Linked DNA regions of Homo sapiens. The protein of the gene in region 1 purifies or fractionates together with the protein of each later gene. This does not show direct contact. Each region holds a gene or a part of one and is shown on either strand. Other genes may lie near its edges.

The links.
Region 2: the proteins of RO60 (region 1) and GFPT1 fractionate together in Homo sapiens (co-fractionation; one large-scale study listed by BioGRID). This does not show direct contact.

What each region holds. Positions count from the first base shown.
Region 1 is NC_000001.11:193,061,397-193,066,894, reverse strand, and holds part of RO60 (RNA-binding protein RO60), read right to left. Parts: exon of another isoform or gene 4,569-5,498; intron 1-4,568. UniProt on the Homo sapiens protein: RNA-binding protein that binds to misfolded non-coding RNAs, pre-5S rRNA, and several small cytoplasmic RNA molecules known as Y RNAs.
Region 2 is NC_000002.12:69,335,228-69,339,726, forward strand, and holds part of GFPT1 (glutamine--fructose-6-phosphate aminotransferase [isomerizing] 1), read right to left. Parts: intron 3,339-4,499; coding exon 3,218-3,338; intron 2,829-3,217; coding exon 2,671-2,828; intron 1-2,670.

The sequences.
Region 1 (5,498 bases):
TTTAGGGAAGGCGCTCCAGGAAGAGGTTTCTGAAATCTCGATCTGTCTTTATATTCTAGAAAAGAAACTGTCTAAGCATCCTGTAGAGCCATAAAGACATGTTGACAGATACGGTCATAACTTAAAGAGGAACACAAGATAAAAGAAGTTTTGTTCTGAAGATCATGCTTACTTGAACATGTTTATATATTACAAGGAAGGCTAAGGATAGAATCTTGGTGAATATTAACCATTAAAAGCTAATGAGAGAAAGGCCTTTTAAAGAGAGACGGAAAAGGAGGTGCACAGAGTTGAAGAAAACCGACAGAGAATAGTATCATGGACTACAAGGAAGAGAACTTCAAGGAGTGAATGGTTGGTAATTTCAAATGGTCAGAGGAAAAGTAAATAAAAGGCTAGAAAATGACCACTGGGTTTAGCAAGTAGGAGTGACTAGTGAGAGCAACTGCAGTAGAGTGGTATAAGAAGTAGCTTGATTACAGTGAGATCAGGAGAATATGCAGTGAGGAAGAAACTTCACAGCTAGACTACTCTTTTGTAGACACATACTTATAAACTATGAAGGAAAGTAAAAGAGGATGGGACTTAGAGAAAAAATCTTTTTACCTTTTTCAATGGGAAGATGCTAACATTGAAAGATTCAATTTGGAGAGCTGAAGATACAGTAGAGAAGGGGGATAACTGAAGGAATTTCTTAAAGAAATGAGAATGAGCTTAGAGCATCCAGGTTGAGACTGGCCTACTGACAGCAAGAGATATTTCCTTTATCTTTTAAGGGTAAAGAGTATAGGTAAAGATAGATTTGAAGGAATGAGGGATAAGGAAACTGAAGACATTCCCCCCTGACAGGAGATGTAGAATGCCAAATGGTATGTGGAGAAGTTTGGTAGAGAGGGGAGGAATGAAAGACTGGGTCTCAGAGAGGGGAACACATAGTGGTGTAGGGATAAGTGCATGGGAGAATGAAGAGCCTCACATTTTGAATGTGACTGAGGGGGACAGTGATCTGAATTGTGTTCGGAATATTAGTGTCAATATTCCAAATAAGACGCTAGTATAAATTTGCTTATGTTAGTGGAAGCCTAGGTCTCAGGTGGCATCAGAGATGTAATGATCATATTAGTCATTAGGGACAAATTCATAGTTACTGAATACAGCATAGGTTGAAACTCCTGTTGCAGTGGATGCCTGTTCTCCTATTTATTATTATCCTCTTTTCAAATTTGGCTTTTATCTCTACCTTTCGATCCAAAACACTTTAAGAAGACTAACATGCTTCTCAAAGACTGATACCTTAATTGCCAATTCCAGTAGACAATGTTATGTTTTTCTGATCTTTACATTACATAGACTTTGCTAGTCTCTCCCTCAGCTTTCATAAAAACAGGCTCTGGTTGCACTTCAACCTGTCTACTTCTGCTTATTAGTTTTATTTGTTAGATGAGTAACACTGAAATGACATCTAATATCAGATAATTCTACTAAACTTGCTTTCCTGCACCAAGGCCCAAGTGGTGGGATTTAAAAGGTCCCAAACCAAACCTCAAAATTCCCTCTCCCCTCAAATTCTTTTCCTTGTATTATTCATTGTGACCACATGTAGCTACATTATTGGTTCCCTTGAAAGTAGAAACCAAATCTTATCATTTTTGTCTCCTCTTTTGTATTGCTTTTATGTAATTAGCAATACATACTTAAAGCCAAATATCATTAAAGTTGACTTTCTGAACCATTTGCCAAATAATTATGCACAATTGGTTTCTCTTTCCCATAACACATTTTGAGAATAAAAGCCTCAATATTTATAATGCAAAATATAATACAAGTCTTTAAGATAAATTCTGTAATCAGAATGATAAATGTACTATATGCAGGTAGTGAAAAATATAATCAAGAAAAAATAAAGTTCTAAAGAAAAGTAATGAATACTGAGTAAAAATGTCATCTAAGAACAAAATTTCTGTTTTTCTAACATATTTAATATTAGGTATTCAGGTACTTCTCTAGAGCAAGCAGCAAAATGAACTTTTAAATCTATGAAGGATGTCTAAGAGGTAATCTCTAAGTATAATCCTTATAATCCCTATTAGAAGAAATAAAGTTACTTATTCATGGACTCTTCCTTTTGCATGTTATGATATAAATGACAACCCTGAGGACATACCCTTTCAGTATTTCTGCAGCAGAAACTGCTCAGGTTTTCCTATGCTTCTGTGACTGTACTTTCCAGAGTGCAACATAAAACAGTGGAACAGATAACATTATTAGCAGCCAGGGCACCTTCCTACTTGATTATATAAATTTACCAGGGTCATATTCATATTTTAAAAGACAGAAAACAGAATAACATGTCCCAAGTTACTCTCCTTCTTGTCACTGAGTGTGATACACACATAAACTCAAAATTCGGCAAAGTGATGTGATACTGTGGCATCTTATAAGAGAGAGTACCTGGTCTTTGGACATAATACCCAGCAGAAAGTTTCAAAAACCCGTGGTATTTCCTGAGAAATAGGAGTGTCTTTGTTACATTAATGAGGCAACATGGGCCCCTAGGTAGCTTCAGGATGGGGGCTAATCACTAGAAAGACCAACTATATGTTTAGAGGAATAAACTGGTCAGGCCAACCTTCCATGAAAGGAGGAGGACTTGAGATCAAGTTCAGCCATGTAGCTAATGATTTAATCAATCATGCCCATGTGATGAAACCTCATAAAAACTTTCTTCATCGATACTCAGTGGAGCATCCTTGGTGAACAAAAACTGATGTGCTGGGAAGGTGATGTGCCCACATTTCACAAGGATGGGCATGGAAGTTCTGCATCCTTCCCTTGCCCCAGACCTTGCCATATGTGTCTACTTCCTGTTTGGCTGTTCCTGAGTTGTATCCCACATTTCACAAGGATGGCATGGAAGTTCTGCATCCTTCCCTTGCCCCAGACCTTGCCATATGTGTCTACTTCTTGTTTGGCTGTTCCTGAGTTGTATCCCTTATAATAAAACTGTAATTGCAAGTAGAGCACTTTCAGTGAGTTATGTGAGTCATTCTAGTGAACTATCAGCCTTGAGGGGATTATGGGAAGTCTTGAATTTGTAGTCCGCAGGGCAGAAGTGTGAGTAGCCTGGGGACCCCATTTACAGCTGGTGTCCAAATTAATGGCATTCTTAGTGGGGACCTTGTCCTTTAATTTGTGGGATCTGATGCCAACCCTGGGCAGCTAGTGCCAGAACTAAACGGAAGTGGGGGACACCCAGCTGATGCTACAGAATTAGTGTTGGAACGCAGACACCAAAGGCAAAAGTGACAAAATAAAAAAATAAACTGGACTTTATCAAAATTTAAAACTTGTATTTCCAAGGACACCATCAAGAAAGTGAAAAGACAACCCAAGAAAAAGGAAAATATTTGCAAATCATACATACAATAAGTGACTTGTATCTAGAATATATTAAGAACACTTACAACTTAATAATAAAATGATAAATAACCCAAGTAAAAATAGGCAAAAGATGTGAATATTACTCCAAAGACACACAAATGGGTAAAGAATCTGAAAAGGTGTTTTTCCAAAGAAGATTATCAAATGGCCAGTAAACACATAAAAAGATGACGAACATCATTAGTCATCAGGGAAATGCAAATCAAAACCACAATAAGATACCACTTCACATCCACTAGGACAGCTATAATCAAAACAATAATATTAAGTGTTGGTGAGGATTTAGAGAAAATGAAACGCTCATATACTGCTGGTGGGAATGTAAAATCATACAGCCACTTTGGAAAACAGTCTGGCAGTTTCTCAAAAGGTTAAATATAGTTAGCATATGACCGAGGAATTCTACCACACACCTAAGAAAAATGAATACATGTATCTAAACCAAAAGTTGTATCCAGATGTTTTTATCAACATTACTCATAACGGTCAAAAAGGAGAAGCAACCCAAATGTCCATCAACTGATGAAGGGATGAAAAAAATATGGTATATCCATACAATGGACTATTATTAGACAATAAAAAGGGATGAAGTAGTGATACATGACACAATGTAAACAAACCTTGAAAACATTATGCCAAGTCAAAGAAGCCAGTCACAAAAGGCCACATATTGTATTACAATTCCATTTATATGAATTTTCCAGAGTAGGTAAATTCATAGAAATAAAAAGTACATTAGTCTAAGGTTGTCAGAGGCTGTCGGAGTGGGGGAACACTGGGAAGTGACTGCTAATGGGTAGGGGATTTCTTTTTGGGTGATGAAAATGTTCAGAAATTAGTGGTGATGACTGCACAACTCCGTGAATATACTAGAACCCAATGCACTGGATACTTCAAAATAGTGAACTTCATGATATGTGAATTATATTCTAAAAATCTATTATTAAAAATACAAACATAAACTAGCCAGGTAAAATATATTTGGAAAGTTATTTAAATAAACAAGCACTTAACTCTGCTATTATCTATATCAGAATGGAGAGCACCAATACAATTGATTACACAAAAATTATATTTAGCCCTACAATTTTTATATTTGACTTTTAAAAGCAATTTGAGATACCCACAAGACATATACAGCAACTTAATTTCTTCTTTCTCCAACTGCCATCATCTCCTGCCTCAAAGCTTAAGCTCCATTATCAGTGGTTTAGAAGGCAATTGGGCAGTGAGTGAGGTCAGAACCTGGTCATCAGTTAATCCATTCCTGGATAATCAAGTGTTGTAAATCCAGATTAACAACAAAAAGATATAGTTAATTCTTTGGATGGGCCTGACCTATCTATCTAGTGCTCTTAAAACACACCATACAACTAATGTTGTATTAAATCTCTATAAATTAAGTTCTTGAGAAGTTAAATATTACAATACTATAATATTAAAAGCATGGACACTTTTTTTTTTTTTTTTGAGACAGACTCTCACTCTGTCACCCAGGCTGGAGTGTAGTGGCGCGATCTCCACTCACTGTAACCTCCGCCCTCCGAGTTCAAGCGATTCTCCTGCCTCAGCCTCCTGAGTAGCTGGGATTACAGGCGCCTGCCACCGCACCCGGCTAATTTTTTGTATGTTTAGTAGAGACGGGGTTTCACCATGTTGGCCAGGCTGGTCTTGAACTCCTGACCTCGTGATCCACCCGCCTGGGCCTCCCAAAGTGCTGGGATTACAGGCGTGAGCCACGGTGCCCGGCCAAGCATGGCCGCATATTAAATTGGTTGTGGATATTTTATACAATGTCCATTTCTCTACTTTTAAATTTAATTTAGAATGCAAAATCAGGAAATGCTAGTAACACACATTATATAATAGCACTTGTTTCACAATCATCAGAACTACAGCATATACAGTATCTTTTATCAGTACTAATGTGTTATTTCCAAGGAATCCTACATTTTTCTTGAATTTACACATCTCAATATCTTCCAAAGTCTCTTTATAATTTATTTGAAAATGCTGCCTTTCATCTCAAGAAGTCAAACACATTTGCAGATTATTCC
Region 2 (4,499 bases), on another chromosome or scaffold:
AACTCTTAGCCTCAAGTGATCCTCCCAATTCAGCCTCCCAAAGTGCCAGGATAACAGTTGTGAGCCACTGCACCCAGCCTGTATGTAAAATTTTTAAAACTCTGCTGTATATTTGAAAATCATCATCATAAAATGTTGAGGCAAATTAAAGTTCTCATAAACAAAGGAATGAGAAATGTAAAATATATATTTCCCTTGGCAGCTCACAATTCCAGAAACATTTTATGAAAAGATTAAGTCAATGGCATCCATCCAAACAATCCCATATCCCACATACACCACGTTGTAGCCCTTGTTTCACAATCTGTTATAAATAAAGAGCCTCTGGGATTCCAATCCCCCAATCAAATCCTTAAGTGCTACTAAAGGTGGCTGGTCATTTATTCAGCCACAGGATGGAAACCCAAGCACAAACATGTAACACGTTTTAATTACCATATGGAGAAAATTCAAGTTTCAGCACTCTGTAAATTATAGTGTTAGCAATATCGAAATACCCAAGAAATAAAAATCTCACTCAAGAGTTTTTATGCCTGTAACCCCAGCACTTTGGGAGGCCAAAGCAGGCAGATCGTTTGAGCCCAAGAGTTCGAGACTGGCCTAGGCAACATGGTAAAACTCCGTCTCTACAAAAAAATACAAAAATTAGCCAGGCATGGGTAGTGGCCTGTACCTGTAGTCCCAGCTACTCAGGAGGCTAAGGTGGGAGGATCACCTGAGCCTGGGAAGGTCCAGGCTGCAGTAAGCCATGAGCACCACTGCACTCTATGTACTCTGGATGATAAAGAGGAGAGACCCTGTCTCCAAAAAAAAAAAAAAAGGTGGGGGGCCAGGTACAGTGTGGCTCATGCCTGTAATTCCAGCACTTTGGGAGGTTGAGGCAGGCAGATCACTTGAGGTCAGGAGTTCAAGACAAGCCTGGCCAACATGGTGAAACCCCATTGCTATCAAAAATACAAAAATTAGCCAGGCGTGGTGGCAGGTGCCTGTAATCCCAGCTACCTGGGAGGCTGAGGCAGGAGAATCGCTTGAACCCAGGAGGCGGGGGTTGCAGTGAGCTGAGATCACGCCACTGCACTCCAGCCTGGCCAACAGAGTGAGAGTCTGTCTCCAAAAAAAAAAAAAAAAAGAAAAAGAAAAAGAAAAGAAGAATTTTTATATAAGAATCACAAACTTTCTACAAAAAATTCTCTATGAGAATCTTTGAGGGAAAAGAATTCAAATGCAGTTATGTACACATTAACATTGTCTTTCACAATCCTTTAATTAAACTCAAATCCACCAATATCCCAACATCTTATTAGATAATCAGCAAGAAATATCAAACTTAAGTAGAAAAATATTGAGAAAACAAAAATGTGAAATCATAAAAAGTAACACATTGGACAACATAGTGAGACCCCATCTTAAAAAAAAAAAAAAAACTAGCCTGGTGCATCTGCAGTCCCAGCCACTCAGGAAGCTGAGGCAGAGATCACTTGAGCCCATGAGTCTGAGGCTGCAGGGAGCTATGATTCCTGTCACTGCACTCCAGCCCCAGCCTGGGTGACAAAACAAGACCCTGTCTCTAAATAACAACCAAACAAACCTAAAACCCCAAAAAAACACTTGTGGAGGGATAACATCTCTTGTATTTATACAACTTTCTAAGATTTCCTATTTTTATTAGCCACCTAAATTTATGCATATTCCAATTCCAAAGAGCAAAGTAGTCTTACCAGGCCTTCAAAACACAAGACAGTACCTTTAAACCTCCCCAGAGCAATATCTAAAGAGAAAGATATTGTCATACAATACTCATTAAAAAATTTTTTTTAATTGCCAAATTTTAAATTTTTTTTTTTTTTTTTTTTTTTAGATGGACTCTTGCTCTGTCACCCAGACTGGAGTGCAGTGGCACAATCTCGCTTCACTGCAACCTCCACCTCCCAGGTTCAAGTGATTCTCTTGCCTCAGCCTCCCGGGTATGCTGGGATTACAGGCACGTGCTACCACACCTGGCTAATTTTTGTATTTTTAGTAGAGACGGGATTCACCATGTTGGCCAGGCTGGTCTTGAACTCCTGAGCTCAAATGATCCGCCCGCCTCAGCCTCCCAAAGTGCTGGGATTACAGGCGTGAGCCACCATGCCTGGCAGTTGCCAAATTTTATACCAAAGGTGTATTCCTCCTTACAAACTTTCAGAGGTAGTATGTATATTTTTACATTATTTATTAGAAACCATAAATAGGTAAATAAAAATTCCAAAAATGGTTAAAGTGGATGTTTCTAATTTGTTACTTTTCAAATTCCAGACTATACTTCATAAAAGAAGGGGATGTTATATACTTGTTATGTATCCTACTGTGCCTAGCAGGAGGGCAGTAAGCGATAGACAAGGATAGCCAGCAGAGACCTTTTCAAAATGGACTTACATTATATACATAAGTCCCTTTTAAACTCTATCAGGAAGAGGGAGAGAATGACAAGTCTTTTATCTATCTGACCCTAAAGTCCTACAATAATTACAATGATTAGTAAAATGTGTGAGTTCTATAACTGCTAACAAAAATAAAATGTGTGAGTTCTATAACTGCTAACAAAAATAAGATACAGACTAGTCTACAGACTAGTCTGCTTCACTGACACTATGATTAAATAATCATCAGAGAAATGAGTCAAGAATTTACCTTTGTACTGGCCACACCAATCTCAGGACCAGCATTAATATGAACTCCACAATCTGTCTCCCGTGATATGGAACTGCCAACTGTGTTTGTGATCCCCACAGTTAAAGCTCCTCTCTCCTTACAGTAACGAAGACCCATCAAAGTATCTGCTGTCTCACCTGTGTAAAAAGTAGGCCAACCATAACACACAGAACAGTTTTAACATATGCTGTTTCTTAGGAGCAAAAACAAATTGACCACACTTTCAACAATATTACTTGTTTTAAATAAAATACAAAACATCCACTTAATAAATTTATAAAACTTTAAGTAATATGGCTTGTCAGGATCTCTCTTCCTTCTCTGTCATTGAAAATCCAGCTCTTTGAACACAAAAGGTGTTCATTTTTACTAATTCATAAAGAATTATGTAACATTAAAATAAATCTGTATTCGTCAAGTCATCTGCAATGCCAGTTTATCTTTAAATATCAGCTTTTGCCAAGATATGCTAGAATTATTAGAAAGAATAACTTTCCTTCCTTTTAAGTCTTTAAAATTAACACACCTGATTGACTAAGGAAAAAGCAAACATCATCTCGAAAGACTGGTGTGTTTCTGTCCAGGAAGTCACTTGCTAGTTCCACCATCACAGGCAACTCAGTCAGCTCCTCAAGAACTTGACGTGTCTGCAGAGAAAATATGACTTGGTCACAGAACTTTCCTTCAAATACTCTTTCATCGGACTTCTTTGGATTCAATGTATAGTTTTTGCTTTTTCTGATTACAAAAATGACACGTTAGAAAATAAAAACAACCCAGATTAAAATATTTAAAAAAAAAAAATCAAAATCCTACCACTTGAGATAAGCATGGCTAACATTTTACTATCAGTCTCTTTAGACAACTATCTATGTATACATTCCTTTTTTTTTTTTTTTTGAGACGGAGTCTCGCTCTGTCGCCAGGCTGGAGTGCAGTGGTGCCATCTCGGCTCACCGTAACCTCCGCCTCCCGGGTTCAAGCAATTCTCCTGCCTCAGCCTCCTGAGTAGCTGGGACTATAGGCGTGCGCCACCATGCCCAGCTTAGTAGAGATGGGGTTTCACCATGTTGGCCAGGATGGTCTCAATCTCCTGACCTCATGATCTGCTCGCCTCAGCCTCCCAAAGTGCTGGGATTACAGGCATGAGCCACTGCGCCTGGACACATACATTCTTATAAGGAAACATACCCACACATATAAAACGTTTTGAGAAGTGGAAAGAGCATGGTTCTGAGTCAGCTTGTGTGTTATCTCTAACCTCCCAATTCCTAATCTTTAAAATGAAAATTCATGTAATACCCATGTTAGGGAGGGGTTTCAAATCAGGTAACAGATGTACAAATATATAGAGAAAAATTAAACACTTTAAAAGTACAACGTATTCATAAATATGACCATTTCCCAAAAGAAGTCAATATATTTTAGAAATCTTGTTTAACAGGGCTCACTATTTTCAACTTTTGTGGCATGGGGCAGGGGGAATGAAGTAGGGAGCAGTATGCCTCTGTGCAAAACGTAGTTTAACCTTCATTTCAGTAAATTTCCATTCTAATTATTTTTACACTAAACATCGGAAAATCAAAAACAGAAAAATTATCTTTTAGGCAGCAAAAACTTTAAGCTCAACCAATGTATACATTTAGTGTTGCTTTAATTCTAACTGTGGAGCTCACCTAACCTGACAGCCTTTCACCAGCCTCTTCAGGCAAGTGGCCCTCCCCATCTCTCACCCATCTCAGCTTTCCTCCTTCTCAGCAATAAAGAACTTAAAGGTGCCCTTATTTCATAGCCCTTAACTTTTGCTT